Linked DNA regions of Homo sapiens. The protein of the gene in region 3 purifies or fractionates together with the protein of the main gene of each other region. This does not show direct contact. Each region holds a gene or a part of one and is shown on either strand. Other genes may lie near its edges.

What was found. Proteins that work in one complex are often made in the same cells at the same time.
Region 1: the proteins of LDLRAD4 (region 3) and ANKRD13A purify together in Homo sapiens (affinity purification with mass spectrometry; 4 studies listed by BioGRID and IntAct, with this or other methods). This does not show direct contact.
Region 2: the proteins of LDLRAD4 (region 3) and DPY19L1 purify together in Homo sapiens (affinity purification with mass spectrometry; 4 studies listed by BioGRID and IntAct, with this or other methods). This does not show direct contact.
Region 4: the proteins of LDLRAD4 (region 3) and CUEDC1 purify together in Homo sapiens (affinity purification with mass spectrometry; 4 studies listed by BioGRID and IntAct, with this or other methods). This does not show direct contact.

Annotation. Positions count from the first base shown.
Region 1 is NC_000012.12:110,022,884-110,027,644, forward strand, and holds part of ANKRD13A (ankyrin repeat domain-containing protein 13A), read left to right. Parts: intron 1-1,162; coding exon 1,163-1,229; intron 1,230-2,858; coding exon 2,859-2,940; intron 2,941-4,761. UniProt on the Homo sapiens protein: Ubiquitin-binding protein that specifically recognizes and binds 'Lys-63'-linked ubiquitin. Does not bind 'Lys-48'-linked ubiquitin.
Region 2 is NC_000007.14:34,932,271-34,937,031, reverse strand, and holds part of DPY19L1 (protein C-mannosyl-transferase DPY19L1), read left to right. Parts: intron 1-4,761. UniProt on the Homo sapiens protein: C-mannosyltransferase that mediates the C-mannosylation tryptophan residues on target proteins.
Region 3 is NC_000018.10:13,620,054-13,625,163, reverse strand, and holds part of LDLRAD4 (low-density lipoprotein receptor class A domain-containing protein 4 isoform alpha 1), read right to left. Parts: intron 4,048-5,110; coding exon 3,893-4,047; intron 1-3,892. UniProt on the Homo sapiens protein: Functions as a negative regulator of TGF-beta signaling and thereby probably plays a role in cell proliferation, differentiation, apoptosis, motility, extracellular matrix production and immunosuppression.
Region 4 is NC_000017.11:57,944,698-57,949,458, reverse strand, and holds part of CUEDC1 (CUE domain-containing protein 1), read left to right. Parts: intron 1-2,566; exon of another isoform or gene 2,567-3,287; intron 3,288-4,761.

The DNA of each region.
Region 1 (4,761 bases), on a different chromosome or scaffold from region 3:
TGCTGTCCTAATTGTAGACAACTAGTAGGAAAATGGGAGCTCTGATCCCTCCTGTTCTGATGGGCTAAAATAGACACATAAACTCATTATACCATCTGGACTAATTTCATTGACCAAATCCCATTAGAAGAAAAGCAAACTATTTGGAAACAAAATGCTAATAACCGCATATGTTCTTTGTAACGTGGCTAACCTGCTGCTGTTCCCTGAGCTTCCTGCATGACATCCCAACCACTCAGTGGTCAGAGCAGAAGTCAGGCTGTTGCCGTAGCCAGGGCCAAGAGGAGCTGGGATGTGATGTCCTAGACAAAGGGTAGGGCTGGTCAGGGATCCCCTGTGAGAGGGAGCGTTTCCCAGGGCAAGCTGCTTTGAAAAAGAATCAGAGCCTCCTGGCTGCTTTTGGTTCCTAAATACATTTTTTTTCAGGAGTATGTTGAGTTGAATAACTGAGATTTTGGGCATATTACCAATGCTGCATCTGCCACTGGAATGCTGGGCTACTTTAAAAGGAGTTCCACAGAGATGGAATTAACAGCTGGGCTAAAAAAATCTGTTTTTCACATCCTTTGCCCTGCTGCACCAAACCTGCCCAAACATGTGACTCAGCTATTTTGCAGACCTAATGGCATCTCCAAGCAGCTCACCACAGTGATGAGTTCCTGGCCCACCTGCTCTTTTGTAAGGAGCAGGATGGTCTGTGCCTCATTGTTCTAAGAATTCCTCGAGTGAGATGTGGCTACTTGTGGAGATCCCACCATTGACATGCATGTCCCCAGTTAAGATGACCCAGATAAATGCTCTGACCTGGTTACCACCTTGTGGCAAGCCCTTGGATGCTGGTCATCTTCAGTCACTTCTTTGGGACTGCTGTCCAATAAATGTCACCACCTTTGTCCTCAATGCTGGCAGTTTTGTAAAGAAGCCAAGATTGGAGGCTTTCTATGCCTGGGGTGAGGCAAATTGATTAATAACTGTGGGAGGAGGGTGGAGGGTGCATAAGCCATCTGTCATTGCTAACCGCCTCCTGTGGACAATAGGACCATGATTTCCAAGTGTCCTTCACTAACTTAAGCTGGGGGGGAAAAAAACTATAAAGGCTACAGATATAAATCTGAATGGCATATTGTACATGTAGAAATTTGTGGTGTTCACTTTTTATCAGAACTAAATCCGGATTCTGGGGCTGGAGGACAGATAAAGCAGAAGTTGTTAATGGTTACGAAGCAAAGGTAAAAGGAAACTCTTAAAATAAGATTTAATATAGCTATTTAGCTTCTATGCAAATGAGGAATCTGTTCCCATTTTTTTCATGCATCTGTGCCATGGAGATGCTCTGGGGAATGAGAACTGTCTAATGTGTCTCTCACTTGGATGTTTGATTTTGTCTTATTTGACTTTCAGAAAATGGGATAGCATGCCCTGAGGAGGTCTGTAGCTATGCTAAAGAGAAACAATATGGTAGAGAAATGAGTACAGGTACCAGTTGTTCTGGTAGGAATGACAAGCTAGTCATTCCCTTAATTATTTAAAAAAAAAAAAGGAAGAGGAAGGATTAGACTTCACATGTGTTCAAATGTTGTGTAGTAGCTTTTGAGTCTCTTTTTTGTTAAATCAGCTTAATTGTAATCAGCAGGCGCACAGCCCATTTGCATGACATCAGTGCATTTAAAACATAGTTGTAATAGTGGAGACGATTGTTGATCCAGTCATCTGGCATTTTGTCAGCTGGAAAGCTGTTTCCTGGCCTTTCAGTCCCTCAGTACAACAGGGATTGATGGCTTTTGGTGTTGGAGCCCAGTGCTGCAGGGTCCTCTGGTGGCCTCTGAGTGAGCAAAGAAAGGCTTACGTCATGCTCAGCAAGATACATTTAGAAGCACTTGTCATAGTGCTGAGTGTGTTTTCTGCAGCTTTGAATGTTGGGGCTCCTCACGTGGCATATAGAGAGAATTCTTTGTTAACTGTTATGTTTGATTTTCTAGACCACCATATTCCCCAGTTATCCTTGATAACAGAGCATTTGCTCTGGCAGTTACAATAATTTTTGTCAGTGCACAGAATGCCTTTTAAATAGTGACTTGCTGGTTTTCTCTACAGCTCATAAGTCTATAGAGAACCTTGTGTTCATACCTTTCTCTTCTGCCCAGCAGATGGCTGTCTGAGTCATACTAGTATTACAAGACTACCAGCGGAGGCTGGGTGCAGTGGCTCACGCCTGTAATCCCAGCACTTTGGGAGGCCCAAGTAGGCAGATCACTTGAGGCCAGGATTTTGAGACCAGCCTGGCCAACATGGTGAAACCCCGTCTCTACTAAAAATACGAAAATTAACCAGTCATAGTAGCACATGCCTGTAATCCCAGCTACTCTGGAGGCTGAGGCACGAGAATCGCTTGAACCCAGGAGGCGGAGGCTGCAGTGAGCAGAGATCACGCCACTGCACTCCAGCCTGGGCAACAGAGGGAGACTCTGTCTCAAAAAAAAAAAAAAAAAAAATTACCAACAGAAGTACAGGATCCTGGTTTGGGTACCTTAGTTTAATAGAAACCCAGGTGGAAACCTAGATTGCAGGGCATTTGTTTGAGACTATTTAGCCACAGCAGGGCAAGCAGGAAGATGCAGCCTGTCACTGCTAACTCCTTAGTATTAAAACTGTCAAACATGGGAGGTAACTGCTGATGCATTTTTCAGTTGATAGTTTATATACTTTCTCTGAAGGATCCTAATGATAGTTAACCATTTCTCATTTTTATTTTGCTGGATTGTTTTCTGTTTTTTGCTTCAGCATTCTTGCTTTTGCTGTGCTTACTTTTGGAGTTTTGATTCCCTGTGTCACTGTTTTCTTTCGCATACACCTCTCAGGTTTACACAGTAAACAATGTGAATGTGATCACCAAAATACGCACAGAACATCTGACCGAGGAGGAAAAAAAGAGATATAAAGGTAATCACCACCACCCTCCCACCTCCTGTTTTGTTGTTATTTTTTAAGCCTAGAGGGAACTCTTTGTTGGCTCTGTTAAGTTTAGGGTTAATGTGATTGGGTTGTGTTAAGCCTAACCCTAACTTCTTCTCTCTCTCTCTCTTTTTTTTTTTTTTTGAGGCAAAGTCTCGCCCTGTCACCCAGGCTGGAGTGCAGTGGCACGACCTTGGCTCACTGCAACCTCTGCCTCCTGGGTTCAAGTGATTCTCCTGCCTCAGCCTCCTGAGTAGCTGGGATTACAAGCACCCACCACCACGCCCGGCTAATTTTTTGTATTTTCAGTAGAGACGGGGTTTCACCATGTTGGCCAGGCTGGTCTCGAACTCCTGACATCAGGTGATCCTCACCCACCTCGGCCTCCGAAAGTGCTGAGATTACAGGCGTGAGCCACCGTGCCTGGCCCCTAACTTCTTTTTTATAAAAATTTCTGGCCAGGCACGGTGGCTCATGCTTGTAATCCCAACACTTTGGGAGGCCAATGTGGGCGAGTCACCTGAGGTCGGGAATTCAAGACCAGCCTGACCAACATGGAGAAACCCCATCTGTGCTAAAAAAAAATACAAAATTAGCTGGGTGTGGTGGCCCATGGCTGTAATCCCAGCTACTCAGGAGGCTGAGGCAGGAGAATCACTTGAACCTGGCAGGCGGAGGTTTTGGTGAGCTGAGATCGTGCCATTGCACTCCAGCCTGGACAACAAGAGTGAAACTCCATCTCAAAAAAAAAAAAAAAATTTCCTGGCTGAGCACGGTGGCTCACACCTGTAATCCCAACACTTTGGGAGGCCAAGGTGGGCAGATCACTTGAGGCCAGGAGTTTGAGACCAGCCTGGCCAATATGGTGAAACCCTATCTTTACTAAAAATACAAAAATTAACCAGGCGTGGTGGCGCACTCCTGTAGTCTCAGCTACTGGGGAGGCTGAGGCAGGAGAATCGCTTGAACCCCAGAGGTGGAGGTTGCTGTGAGCCAAGATTGTCCCACTGCACTCCAGCCTGGGTGACAGAGCTAGACTCTGTCTCAAAAAAAAGAAAAAGGAAAGAAAATTTCCTTAGTCTGACTCATTCTTGGAGGTGTTTCCCCATAGTTGGCCTCAGCTGTAATTAAAGCTATTCGTGAGGGCTTGTTTATGTGTTATCAAGAACAATTGTTGAATTCAGCCAAAAAAGGAGATAAGGACATTTGAGAATATTTATCATTGGAATGAGTGATTTAGTCCAAACTATTGTGATGAAAGATTTAGACAGAACTTGGGGTCCAAGCAAAAACATTGCATGTGGTTGCCACATCCCAGCCCCATCCCAGCCCCACCAGTTCTATGGCCTTGTGAAATTACTTCTGCTCTGTGCCTTAGTTCCTCAGCAGTGAAATGCAGGTGATACCCAACCTTCCTTAGAGTTATTGAGAGGATTAGATGAGTTACGACGTGGAAGCCTTTAGAATGGCGCCTGCAGTATGTGGTAAGCATGCAGTAATTGTTCACCAGCACCACCACCACCATTGCCATTACTCCACTTTGACAGATGAGGGAACTGAGGCCCAGAACACATGGGTAGCGAGTGGCCAAGGTGGGGTTGGAATCCAGGTCTGGCTCACTCCAAAATCCAGACTCTTCCCATTATTCTGCTTTAATTCTTACAACTGTTTATCTAGTTTAGAGATCCTCATGAAAAGCACCCTATAAAGGATAAATTAGTTTATGGTTATTGTGAATGATTTGATCAGCCAGTCTGTAATTGCATTTCCTAATGAGGTAGCTTGGACCAGAAACTTTAATGAAGATCT
Region 2 (4,761 bases), on a different chromosome or scaffold from region 3:
GTACAGGAACAATTTTATCAGAAATAAACACTATTTTATGGAATAATAATATTTTTTAAATTCTTACTATTCTGTAACTAAACAAAAGCGTTCAAGAGATTGCTATATTTGTGGCTTGATCACACTTTCCCACCATATATTTCAATGACACATATGGTATTAAGACAACATTGTTAAATACTGAGTCGTGAGTGAAAAATAGTTCTGTGACATAGTATCTACAGCTTTGCTCACAAGGAAACTAAAATAATTGTTGATTATAGAATGATTCTCCTATGAACGTGTGCTACGTGGTTTGAATTCAGTCAGGATTTATAGAAAATGTTATTTTGTAATAATTCAGAAAATGTTTTAAGCGTTTGTGAATATGTATATGAAATTCACATACTCACCTTTAACATTGTTATATAAATTTAGGACAGAAAAGTTCTAAGCATCTCATGACGATCTTAGGAAATTATATGAAATGAATGATAGGCTGACATTTGCAATAGGAAGAACTCAGTTCTTAGCATAGCTTTCTACCAGAATGGGGATCTTCTTTATTTCTTTGGGCTTCACTCTCTTGAAACAACTGTAAGTTACTGGAACATAAAAATAATTTTCGTAACCTTTTTTCTCCAAGCTAACAATGAGCCTTTGAGAGTTCATATTCTGCCTAGACCCCTGCATAGAGTTTGAATATGTGAAAGTTGCAGAGGCTTTGTGCTGTAGAGTGTTGGGAGAGCTCCCTGGATTTGCATAGCTCTAACAGTCTCATGTTTGGGTAGGCAGAGCACTGTTTTACCCACACAAGAAGGGATATGAAGGCAAATTCAGGATGTATGGCAATAAACTTTGCACACTAAACAAAATCAGCAGACATTGAACTGACTTCAAGTCACTTACGAGCAATCAGACTGAGAGTTGGGGTGCAGAAGAGGGTGTGCTGGATTTCCCCATCTGGACCTTGACTTGCCATTTATTGTGTCTGTCACAGCAGGAGTTGAGTGGGAGGAAGCTACGAAAGTGACTCTCTCATCTGTTTTCCCCACTCATTAAAACAACACTCTCCATCTAGTACAAGATCTAAGCCAGGCTGATGACACACTGTCAGGAAACCTTGGACAGGTCCACTCTGCTTCAACCTTGACACAAAACAAAAGCTGTGCTTTCTGTCCTGACAGGGAAGCAAATGGGGAGTTCAGATAGGAGAGGAAAGTGAAGAATGACTAATATTTATCTAGTGTTTACATTTAGAGTAGGAAGTTTCTTGACAAAGCTTTCTGCCTGGTTTGGGACCTTCCTTATTTCCTTGGCCTTCACTCTCCATTTCAGTTATGATCAGCCTGAAACCCCTGTAGATTGCTGGGACGTGAAAGTATGTTGGAATGGGGGAAGCAGATGGGGAACTCAGTTAGGAGAGGAAGGGGAAGAGGGACCAATATTTATCTAGTGCTTAATCTGTGCCTGGCAATTGGTGAGCACTATGTTTAAATGATCTCATTTACAAGTGGCTTAATTGTATGGCTTGATTATTCCTTAAATATTTGACACTGTGTTTAAATATAAACACTCAAATATATTTGCATGCAAGTTGTAGATTAGTTTTAAATTAACTACAGTTCTCTGCTTTCTTTTACTCCAATAATAGAGTTGACATAGAATACATGTATTTAGAAGGAAATTATTCAGATTTTCACTAATGCTATTTGCAGATGGCTGGCCTGGGGAAACCTTGGGAAACTCAGATGAGGACTAAATAGTGTTGCACAAGGCAAACAGAGCTCCCCAAGACAGCTGTTTGCCCTCTCTTTTTCCTAAAAGCTGTTGAACTCAGGAAAACTGTGGGTCGTTCTCTACTTTCTGTGTGTCTCACTCTCTGCCACCGTGGGCCCTCAGTGTTGTAACAGTTCAGCCTTGACGTGTATGAGAAAATTACAAGGTAGAAAACCCATGCCCAGCCATATGATCATAGGTGTTCCATGTGAGTAGAAACCAGTGTCAGCAAAGGTGTGCAAAAAGTGTGCACTTGAGCCCTCTTCATGGGAACACTCACTGGCAAAACATTTCTAGGGGATAGTTTGATGAAGGGAAGGTAAGAAAAAAATTGTGCAGTCCTTTGGCAGAGTGATAATGTTGCCTCTAGAGCAGGGGTCTCCAAGCCCCCGGCCATGGACCAGTACTGGTCTGTGGCCTGTTAGGAACCCAGTCTCACAGCAGGAGGTGAGCGGAGGGTGAACAAGCATTACAGCCTGAGCTCTGGCTCCTGTCAGATGAGTGGCAGCATTAGATTCTCATAGGAGTATGAACCCTATTGTGAACTGCACATGCGGGGGATCTAGGGTACGTGCTCCTTATGAGAATCTAATGCCTGATGATCTGAGGTGAAACAATTTCATCCCAAAACCATCGCCCCCACCCTCCAGCCCATGGAAAAATTGTCTTGCAGGAAACCAGTCCCTGGTGCCAAAAAGACCGGGGACCGCTGCTCTAGAGGTTTAGTTTGCAGAAGGGAGCTCTGCACAAGACTGTTTGTAGCTGCATTGCTTTATAATGGCAAAATGGGAAACAATTAAAGTATCTGTCTGTAAAGAATTGGTTAAATAGTACATATGAGAACTAGCAGCTTTTAAAAACAGTAGAATAGATCTTTATGCACTGAGATGGAAAAATGGTTCCACGTTTTATTGTTCAGTATACAGTCCCAGAATAATTCCATTTTTGTAAAAACAACTCAAGAGCATCTGCCAGGGTTTTCCAGAGGGACAGAACTAATAGGATAGATGTGGCCGGGCGCGGTGGGTCACGCCTGTAATCCCAGCACTTTGGGAGGCTGAGATGGGCAGATCATGAGGTCAGGAGATCGAGACCATCTTGGCTAACACGGTGAAACCTTATGTCTACTAAAAATACAAAAACTTAGCTGGGCGTGGTGGTGGGCACCTGTAATCCCAGCTACTCAGGAGGCAGAGGCAGGAGAATGACGTGAACCTGGGAGGTGGAGCTTGCAGTGAGCCGAGATCACACCACTGCACTCCAGCCTGGGCGACAGAGGGAAACGCCATCTCAAAAATAAAAAAAGGATAGATGTATATATGAAATGGAGTTTATTAAGGAGTACTGACTCACACGATCACAAGGTGAGGCCCCACAATAGGCCATCTGCAAGCTGAGGAACAAAGAAGCCAGTCTGAGTCCCAAAACTTCAAAAGTAGGGAAGCTGACAGTGCAGCCTTCAATCTGTGGCTGAAGGCCCAAGGTCCCCTGGCAAACCACTGGTGTAGACCCAAGAGTCCAAAAACTGAAGAACTTGGAGTCTGATGTTCAAGGGCAGGAAACATCCAGCACAGGAGAAAGATGGAGGCCAGAAGACTCAGCCAGTCTAGTCCTTCCACAATTCTTTTGCCTGCTTTTATTCTAGCCATGCTGGCAGCTGATTAGATGGTACCCACACAGATTGAGGGTGGGTCAACCTCTCCCAGTCCACTGACTCAAACATTAATCTCCCTTGGCAACACCCTCACAGACACACCCAGAAACAATACTTTGATCCTTCAATCCAATCAAGTTGACACTCAATACTGACCATCACAGCATCTATGTATATAATGATATCTGTGTCTGTATGTGTGTCTGACATTGGAGAAAGATACAGCAGATAGCAAATATTGTATGTTCTCACTTATAAGTGGGAACTAAGCTACCAGGATGCGAAGCATAATAATGGTACGGACTGTGGACTCGGGAAGCGAGGAGTGGGGTGAGGGATAAAAGACTACACATTGGGTACACTTTACACTGCTCTGGTGGTGGGTGCACCAAAATCTCAGTAACTGCCACTGAATAACTTATCCGTGTAACCAAAAACCACTTGTTTCCCAAAAGCTATTGAAATAATTTTTTTTTTTTTAAAAAGGTCCAGCAGGATATATGCTGGATTGTTTATAGAAGTCACCTCTGAGAAATGCTATTGGAGATGATGGTGACTTTCATTTCTTAAAATGTATGTAGGTCTATATTTTGATACTTTTATAATGACTGATTATTATAAATTAAAGGTGTTATTTAAAAAGGGAAAATGATGTACATACCTGCTACGGTGTTTGCCTCATGGTGGAGAGTGAGGGAGGGACTGCTACTAAACATAAGAGGGACTTGGGAATTTTTTTCTCTTATTTAAAAATAAAAAGGGATGCAATTATGACAAACATGAGCAGTTGTCAATTCTCTATAATTTTCCCATGTTTTTCTGTTTTTTAAAATTCCTCAAAAGGTAGATAGCAGCATCCAACAGTTATATCCATAAAACTGTTCTTGATTTAAGATAAATGGTACTGTTATTTTGAAGGACTTATTTAGGCAAATGTCATATGCCAATTTATAAAGATATGTTGCTTTTGAGATTTAATTATGTGTTTAAGATGTATGCTCAACACTACCAGAATTTCTTTAAATTGATTCATTCTAGAATATCGACTGTCCAATTTAAGATGTTTTGACCTACTGATTTTTTTACTTTATGACAGTGTTAAAGCCATATGCATTCAGTAGAAAGCATATTTCAAATACCCATACAACCATTCTGTTTTTCAGTGTCAGTACAGCATTCAATAAATTACATGAGATATTCAATGTTTTGTTGTAAAATAGCATTTGTATTTGATGATTTTGTCCAACTGTAAGCTAATATAAGTGTTCCTAGCATGTTTAAGGTAGGCTAGGCTAAGCCGTGATGTTGGGTAGATTAGGTGTATTAAATGCATTTTCAACTTATGATGG
Region 3 (5,110 bases):
TACAAACAGGCCCTCACAGGAGGCTCCCCAACAATGCACAGGCTCCTAATGAGGCTGCGCTCCACAGAGGGGACAGGAGGAGCATCCAACCCCAGCTGCTGACTGGAGGGTGCTGAGCCGCCGCCAGGGCCTGGACTCCCAGGGCCTCGGGTGCTGCAGGAGAAAGGCCTCGGACATTGGTGCTGAGAAAGGAAGAGGTGCTTAGGGGCTTGCAGGGGCCCTGATAACTGGAAAGAAGCCATGAGGATGGCAGCATCTGCCCAGACACACTCATCCTCCCCAGCCGCCTTGCCCTGGAGCACAGGCCTGCACAGCAGCACAGGGAGCCCAGGAGACAGAGGACTGCCAGGCTCTGCCAGGGGGCACAGGGCCCTCCCTGCCATGCTGACCAGCCAGCCGTGCCTTCCCAGCCCCTTCCAAGCCCCTTGGGAGGGGGCTTCCTGACACAGGTGGTCACCTAGGGATGGGGAAGGCGGGGAACTTGGAACTGCCCTCGCCAACTGCACATGGGCCAGGCCAGGCATGGGGACGGAGGAGACACAGGTCCTCATACCTGCCCCAAACACCTCCTACAGCTCCCACGCCTGACACTCCCCCATCCCAAAGGCACAATCGGCCAGCCAGACCCCTAGCCTCCCCTAGGAAGATGGAGAGAATGGCAGCGGGGTCTTGGCCTCCGCCAGGGGACTGCAGGTGCTGCTGGTGGCGGAGGCGGGGCATGGCCACTGTTTCCCCCTCCTACTCAGTGCCTGGCTCCTGCGGAGTGTCCACTGAATGGCTGGATGAGCAGAGGAGGCAGGAGTCACTGGGGAAACTGTTCCCAAGGCAGAGTCCCAGACCAGACCCCAAACTCGTACTGCTGGGAAGAGCTCTCCGCTCTGTGGATGCCTCAGAGCCAGCCTAGAGAGACCCCCTCATGGTAACAGGCAGCCTCTTTTACAGTGAAGTGCCCCTGGGTCCGGCAGTGCTCAGCACCTGGTGGGTCCGGCAGTGCTCAGCACCTGGTGGGGCCGGCTCCTCCGCCTCAGCACCGCTCACATCCACTCAGATGAGTCTTTGTTGCGGGACTGCCTGTGCACTGTAGGACGCACTGTACAGATGAGTCTTTGTTGCAGGGCCGCCCGCGTACTGTAGGACACATTGTAGGATTCCCCCTTATGATGCCAGACACTGCAAATGTCCCCTAGACATTTGGCAGAATCAGCCCTGATCGAGACTCCTGAGCTGAGTGTAAATGAATCAGATCGCTCCCCTAATACTGTATACGGGGAACAGGCATTTCTTAAAAGAAGTTAGAAGTAGGGAATTAGGAGGCAGGAAGCCTGGCTGCGTGGGGGCATTCCTGGGTGGAGAGGACCTGGGTTAGGGGACCCTCAGGGCAGAGAGAGGGAAATGGATAGCATGGCCACACCCATAGTATTAGCAAGGCCTGAGTCTGTGTCCAGGAGAGAATGGAGGTTTCTTCCTCATCAGCTGCCACTCTTTTCTCTTTTGGGGAACCATCAACTGGGCTAATACACCAGATCGGGAAGTGGAGCAAGGGCCTGGGCCGAGCTGCCTCTGGTCATCGTGCTGGAATGCATCTTGTGTTTTATGAAACATCACACAGAGTCCTTTGCTAAGCTACGCTGAAGCCGTAGGAGGAACAGCCACACCTCGAGGAGGGACAGCTCCCAGTTCCAGGTTACTCAGAAAAAAAGGAGAAATAGCTCGGTGCAGCCGGATCTCTGCAAGCCCCAGCTCAGCTCCAGAACGGAGCTCTCAGGGGGAACACTGTATGTGCACATTAACAAAACGAGGCCCAGACAGGGATGTGGACCACTGTGTGGACACAATTCACTGGCTGCCGAATGTCTTCACCTGCCACGCAGTGTGCAGCCCTGAAGGGACCTCTGAACATCGCTCTGTCACCTTCCTGATTTCAGGGAAGGGAGGCTCTGCAGGTGGGGCAGCCAGCGCTTCCCGGGAAAGGGCATCACACAAATCTGCCGCCACATGACACAGAAGACACTTTTTTGACACTTTTTGCTTTTCTGCTGGGCCTCTTGGTTGGTAAGGGTGTGGCCAGTGTGCTGGTGTTCAGGACACAAGGTGCTATGAACAGGGACAGCAAGCGGGGCTGGGTCTGCACCAGGAACAGAGCAAGGAGCTGCCTGACCCACACTAGGGAGAGAGAAGCCAACACCAGGGCAAGTCTGGGAGGAAGACTGGGGAGCGCCCAGGCAGGGGACAGAAAACTCCCTGTGTGCCTGCGCACAGAGACCCCAAGCGTTCTGGAGCTCCTGGAGAGAAGGCCAAGGAAGGCTGTGCTTGTTTCCACCAAGTCCAGGGGTGGCGTTCACAGCCCGTAATACATTAAGGCAAAGCAGCGATGTCTGAGCCTTCTGCGGTTCTGAAACTGCTGCTGTGATGAGATTTTCTCCCTGTCCTCTCTCAAAACACAGGTGAATCCCATACACTGTGTGTTTAGAACTTCAGAAGAATTAGTCCTCCCTCTGTCCAACAATCTACAGGCATCAGGATGCCAAAGTGTTCAGTGCGTCTGGATGGCGCAGCTCTGTGGACACCAGACAAAGGACCCCAGGATGCTGTGGAGGCTCGAGGAAAGTAACACAACAGGGCCAGAGGGGCTTGTGGACTGAACTGGGCATCCAGAGAGAGGACAGAAGGGGCAAGAGAGGATGCAGGGGGCAAGAGGAGGAAACGGCTGTCAAGGGTGCACGTCTTCCCCTGGCATCCCATCTCCTCCCCGAGGCTGCCCCGTCTAGCCCTCACCATGGTCTGAAGATAGCACTCGGTAGCACCCACCCCTTCCTTCTCCCCACTACCTGCAGGAGCTGCAGAGCAGACAGCAAACCTCAGCTCTGCCCATATGGATGGCTGCACCAATGATCCTAGTGAAGTGTGAGCCTGCACTCCTGAGAGGGGTCCCAGGGCCAGCGGCCACCCCAGGAAACCCACCTGGACAGCTGCACCCCATACCCTGGACAGGCTCTGTAAGTCAGGGTGGGAGCCGGAACTGCACAGCCCTGTTCCTGAAGAGGGATGCTCCGTAAGGACCGGCTCCTGTGCTCAGCATACCGCAGGGCTCCACACTGTGGAGACTCGGCCTCGCTGCCCATCACGGAAGCCAAGGATTTATACGCTCGCTGAACTCACCGCTCCTAACCCTCTGGCTGGAAGCCATCAAAACCACAGCCTGTAAAACAGGCTTGGGACAGCAGCCCCTGGTCTCTCAAGTTTGATCATAGTGCAGTTTGGCTTGAGGGTCCACCGCCGACAACCCCACCCTCCACAACCCCACCCTCCACAACCCACCGCCGACAACCCTACCGCCGACAAGCCCACCGCTGACAAGCCCACCGCCAACAACCCCACCGCCGATCCCCAGGAAGCTCCCGAGGCCTTAAGCTCCAGGCGTCCTCCAGCTCATGGCACCCATGTGCTGCCGGCACGTTTAGTGACGATGAGCGCGTGATTTGTCCCCGCAGCACCTCCAGGACCCAGCTCAGGACAGGATTTTACAACACAATGAATCTCACAAGTGCACTGCCAAGCCAGAGGAGCCAGGCACGAGGGACCACCCAGGGCCGGTCCCGTTCGTGCACAGCTCAGAAGCTGGCAAAGCCACGTCGGGCAGCAAAGATCCAGGGGAGACCTGGGAGGGGTCACGCAGGCTTCTGGGGGGACTGCTGTGTCTGTATGTTCACTGGGTGCTGGTCACACTGGTGTGTTCAGTTTGTGGGGACTCACTAAGTGGAACACTTACGAGGTGCGCTTCGCCCCGTTTGTTACATGTCAACTGAAAGCACTCCCGGCCTCTGAACCCTGATGGGCTCCTAAGCCTCTTGCAGCTGCCTGACTCTGGAGCCGGGGCGGCCAGGGTACTCACCTGCGGCAGCCCGTCCTCCCGCCTCCGGCTCTGGTTCGGGCGGTTGATGAAGGACCGCGTGGAGACTTTGTAGTGGTTCAGCAGGCAGACGATGACCACCACCATCACCGTGACCACCACGACGATGATGATGATTTGGGCGAACTCCAGCTCCGCTGCCATGGAAGAGGAGAGTGGTTAGCCACCTGGCCCCTCCAGTCCCCACCCATTCTCCAGGCACTGTCACCACCCCAGCCATCAGGCCCTGAAGGCCTCTCACACACGTCTGTTCCTCAGAGGCCAGCAGGACACAGAAACGACTGTCCCACTTTAGGGAAGGAGACACCACGGCACAGTCGGGAGGCTGTGCAAACCAGCTGCGGGGAGCGGGAAGCCTCTGCCATCCCCCACCACAGGGAGCTGAGAACGTCTCCACAAACTGAAGCTATTTCTCCAATGTCACCGCTCTAGAAAAGTTAAACCCGTCTTTATGGTTGAGTGGAGTTTCTCAAAGCAATTCCCCTAGGGACCCATACTTGAAAGGAAAAATCAACTTCAGCCCCTTGCCTCCAAGGCTGTGGCTCTGCAGGTGAGTTAGGAAACATCCACATTGTTTCCAGGCCTTCAGGCACAGCACTTTAGGAGTGGTCAGGTCTCCCCTGGGTTTCTGACACCACCACCCCAAAGATTCCTTAAATGCCATTGACACACACTTCACATGTGAGTCCAGCAACACAGAGTGACTTCCAGTCACAGCACATTGGGCCGGCAGCTGGAAGCAGGTGAGCCAGACCCCCGTTTTGGGAGAGGAAGCAGGTCGAGGGCTCACGGGCGGCCTGGAGCCACTTTCTGCTCCCCTCTTCCAGCCCATGGCTCTGCTGCCTGCTTCACTCCTTGTCCCCCGTGCTGGAAGGAAGTGACTGACCGTGCAGTGATGTAAATTCAGAGCAAGGGGCTCGGGGATGCTAAGAGGAAGACAGTGCAGGAATCTGGGGGAGGCAGGAGTAAGAAGAGAGAAGCCATCAACTGTGCTGCCCTGGGCTCACAGCACACATGCACACACATGCATGCACGTACATGTGCCGCAGCAGGGCTCAGGCCCCGGCCAGTGGGGAGGCATATCTGTCAAGTGTATCCGCTCATACGTGGGGCGATGCAGGCAGAGATCAGGTGGTGCCTCCCCAGTGGCTACGACTGTGTGCGTCTGCTGCCCACACCCTGGGAACCGAGGGTGAGGCT
Region 4 (4,761 bases), on a different chromosome or scaffold from region 3:
TGTCCAGGCATCGTTGGAACATGCCTGGAGGGTTCAGCTTAACAGAGTCTGCTGAGAACCACTGGCCAAGTGCCAGATACTCTGCTGGGGCCCATCCTGGAGCACAAAGGTCATCAAGCCATGGCCCCTGCCTTCAAGATGCCTCCTGTCTAGTAAGGGAGACAAACATGTTAGCCTGGAATTTCAGTTTCTGTGGCAAGTGCTGCGATAAGACAAAGCACTGAGGAAGGGGGCACTTTGCCAGCCAGAAGAGGAGTTGGGGCAGGGAAGGCTTCCTGGAGGAGGGGCCGCTTGAGCTGAGTGAGGACAAGATAAAGTGGCTGCTGCCTCCTGGGCTTTTGATCTGGCATGGGAGCACATTGTTCTCCCCCTTGGTGAACTCTGAGTAGAGCTAAGTAGCGGTGTGGGTTTCAGAGAAGGGTCAGGTTTTCTGGATTCTGTAGCACCCTTGCCAGGGTGAGGCAGGAACTGGGCAGTGTGGTCAGCTTTCCTGATGCCTTTGTGGTTTTTAACAGCTGAGAAACACTGCCACCTCTTGTAATGCCTGCAGTGAACATGGTGAAGAAGACATAAAAGTCCCTTAAGAGTCATTGCTCAGAACACAGTGATTCACTCTTGTCTCTCTGCACTTAGAACCAGAGGCAAATGAATTTAAACTACAGAGGGAGGATTCAAGTAAGGTATGAGGAAGACATTCCAGATAGGATGTGAGATGTAAGAAAAGTGACTCATAGGCACAGAGGGGAATGGCCTCCCCTGAAGGTCTTCAGAAATGGGAACAAGTTTCATTTGTCTTTGTGGTTTAAGAGGTTTCATCTGGAGACAGGAAGATGAAGTAGAGGCCCCTAGAGGTCCATGTCAGCTCGGTGATCGGAGGATAAAAGGAGCTGGAATTTTTGAGCTAGAAGATTACTTAAATTTGGCCTAACCCCTCCTTTGACTGTTGGAGTGATTGAAGAATGCCCGATAACACTGAGCAGCTCATCCATGAATGAGTGAGCCAAGGCACAAACAGAGTCTGCCCAACAGCTCTGGGCCAGGTGACCCTGGCCCGCAATGTTCCTGGTCAGCATCACCCGGGGGTGCTCACTGGGAGGGACCTACAGCTCTCGGGGATGGAGTCCAAGCCGTGTGAGGAGAGCTCAGGAAACCTGGAAGTAGTGGAGCATTTGTCTTGGTATTGGAATACAGAAAGCATCAGCCCCCATACACACAGTGTTTCTGAGAATGGCACTCTCAGTTGGAGCTAGTGGGTTATCTCCTAGATGCACCTAGAAGAGTTTTAGGCATATATATGAGGCCCTCAGTAAACTTTGTTGGATGAATGAGTAAATAACAGATAATCCAAGACTTAATTTCTCTTTGACCATACCCTTGTTAGGCCAGTGCACTTAACCCTTCTTATTCTGTTTTGCTTAAGCTGACAGTAGGCTTTTTTTCATAATACTGCCTAGCCACAAAGAAAGCTGCCCACAAGTATGCTGGGGGCAAGGGTAAGAAGAGAAAACACAGTTTAGGATCCTTCTCAACATTTATACTTCTTTGAAGGATCATCAAGGCCTGACATTATGTTCAGTCATAATGGCTTTTGCTTTTTTTCTTTTGTATTGTTCCAAGCACAAAAGTGTTTTTATTTTTTATTATTTATTTATTTATGAGACAGGGTCTTGCTCTTTCACCCAGGCTGGAGTGCAGTGTGGTGTGATCTCAGCTCACTGCAACCTCTGCCTCCCAGTTTCAAATGATTCTTGTGTCTCAGCCTCCCGAGAAGCTGGGATTACAGACATACGCCATCACAAACAGCTAATTTTTTTGTGTTTTTAGTAAAGATGGAGTTTCACCATGTTGGCCTGGCTGGTCTCGAACTCCTGAGCTCAAGAGATCCACTCGCCTTAGCCTCCCAAAGTACTGGGATTACAGGTGTGAGCCACCGTGCCTGGCTCGAGCACAAAAGTAAAACGCTTCGTTTTTCAAATTTACGAAAAACATGTAGTATAACAGTCTCAGCCACATTACAGCAAGATGGTTACAGGGATCTCAGAAGAGAACAAAGCTTGCTCTTGGAAGATAATCTGATTAAGAGTGAACCAAATATGAACGGATGCTGGACAATGAGTTTAAAAATAATACCGGGTGGTGAACTTTAGCTCACGGGGTGAACTGAAATAGACTTGTGCAAATAAGAGAGAAGTAGCAGCAGCAAACACGACGGCAAGAACTTTTGCTTCCTCCTCTAATCCCATGATTCCCTATTCATTAAGAAAGTATTTGATGTTAGGAGGGCACTGCAAAGCTTTTTTTTTTTTTTTTTCTCCTGGTGACCAGCAAGCTGGATTTGGAGCTCTGTTAAGGGGAAGCCTCTCTGTGGTCATGTAGGGTGATCAGGCTCCTGAAATGATTTCACTTTGCTCTGGTCTGAGATTAGTTTCGGTTTCAGGCTGTACCCACAGCTGGGAGAGAGCTAGTGAGCTCCAGGGAGGGTCAGCTGGGGGAGTTTCACCATTGGCTGTGTCAGCCAATGGCAAGGTGTGTGAACAGGGAACTCCTGTGTTGAGCAGAGAGAGGAAGAAGATGCGTCCGAGATGGAGTTGGGGAAGGCAGCACTTGCGTGTTTGTGTGTCCAGAGACCGGGCTGGTGATGATGAGCAGGAGGGAGCGTATGAAGATATCAGATGTGCAAAGGACAAAACCCCCACCCAATTACAGGACCACTGAGCCTCGAGCTAGGGAAGTCTTAAAACAGATTGCCTGGGCCGGGTGGATTTTCCCTGAGCAGGTGTACACCTGAAAGGAAAGCAAGTGTGAGCATGCCACAGAGTCAACATACATCTTGTACTGGCATTCTTAAGATCAGCCTCTACGGTGCAGCATTTTCTTGCATATGAGTTTCCTTTAAAAAAAAAAAAGTCAAATTAAAGTTTGAGAACTGATAGTTGCGAACTTGCAGACCTTTGCATGTTGGTGGATCCTTTGAGAACTTCAAGCTGTCATTTTTCCTGAGACGGCTTGAGGCCAGTCTGGTTGGTTCACAGGACATCATTACCCTAGAAAATCAGCAGTTTTCCTCCCCTGACTGGTTCTGGGTGAGGCATACACAGATGTTTCCTTCCCTCAGCAGTACTAGAGCATCATTACATTTTATTTCTCAAAGTTATAAATTCATTTTATTTTGAAAAGAGAGAATCACTGAATTTTACAGCTGGAAAGGATTCTGAAGACTGCTTGCTTGGTTGGCTCCTGGAGGAATCTGAGGTTGTGGGTCGTTAAGTGCTTTGAAAAGACCAATGGTATGTAATTAAGAATACTGAATCAGAATGCCTGTGCTTCATCCCAGCCTCTGCTAGTTGCTGCTGTGTTCTTGGGGCAAGTTACTCAATCTCTCTGAGTCTTAGTTTCCTGATCCATACAGTGGGAGTAATAATATTACCAAATGGTTTTTTGGTGTTTTTTTTTTATTTTTTATTTTTGAGGTGGAGTCTTGCTCTGTCACCCACAGCCTCCACCCGCCCGGGTTCAAGTAATTCTCCTGTCTCAGCCTCCTGAGTAGCTGGGATTACAGGCGCCCTCCATTACCCCATGCCCAGCTAATTTTTGTATTTTTAGTAGAGACAGTGTTTCACCATGTTGGCCAGGCTGGTCTTGAACTCCTGACCTCAACTGATCCGCCCACCTCAGCCTCCCAAAGTGCTGGGATTATAGGTATGAGCCACCACGCCCGGCCAAAATATTACATAATGATTGTTAATTACTACCAAATACTTATTAAGCCCCTAGCACAATGTTTTGCATATTGTAAGTCCTCATTAAATGTTAGCTGCTGCTGTTATTGTTATTATTTTCATTTTGTGAAATCACACAGCTACTTAGTGGTAAAGCCAGGGCTACAATGTTAAATTCTTTTTATTCCAATTCTTTTCAGCATGGCCATAAGGAGATTTCACCACATTCTGGAAATATGGGAAAACCTTTACAAAAATGTTTATGCGGATGTCTTTGCATGAATGTTCATAATACAGCTAGAAGAAATGGGCTTAACCTATTTATTAGATATAGTTAGACTTTGGGCATGGGGGCATATGTCTACCAAAGAATTTGTTTCCACAAATATTATTTACTAGTGTTTAAAGGTTTCCTGAATGCTAGATTGGTTGCCTCTGCTGGAAGATTGGGGTGTTTTTAGATGTTTTCATTGAAGAGTTCTTCTCAAGTTGGAAACATCCATTTCAATGAGTTGTGGTGGCAAAGCAGGCTTTTGTGCGTAATGGAAATATTTCTGTAGCCTGGCTGCTATTTATCAAGGGTGAAGACAGTGCAGATGTTTTGAAAAAAATATATAGGCTTGGCAGAAGTCCATGTGTCTTAGGCCATGCCTACACAAATCCATTCCCAAATGATCCGTACTGACCTTTAGCAAATCGATGACAGCCTCGGAGCCTCCCAAGGGAGCCGTTTTTGTCTGAAACATTGTTGAGGCCAGTGTGACCCCTGGCCTTGCATGGTCCTTGACACCTCTGATGGGGCGACACCCTCTCCCTAAGGCAGCTTTGGTGTGTTTTCGTGGAATATGAAGACGAATGGAAATGAATTTTGTTTGGTGAATCTTGAAAGATTCCTGGAGATACTGTCGCTCTGTAGAGATTGAAATCTGTTCTTGATGCTGATCCGTGGGACTTCTCAAATCTCCATGCCTGAAGGAGACAGTGTGTTAAAGTGTGAAATGTGTGAGTGTGCAAAGGAGTTGATGACTGGAGTTCCAGTCTT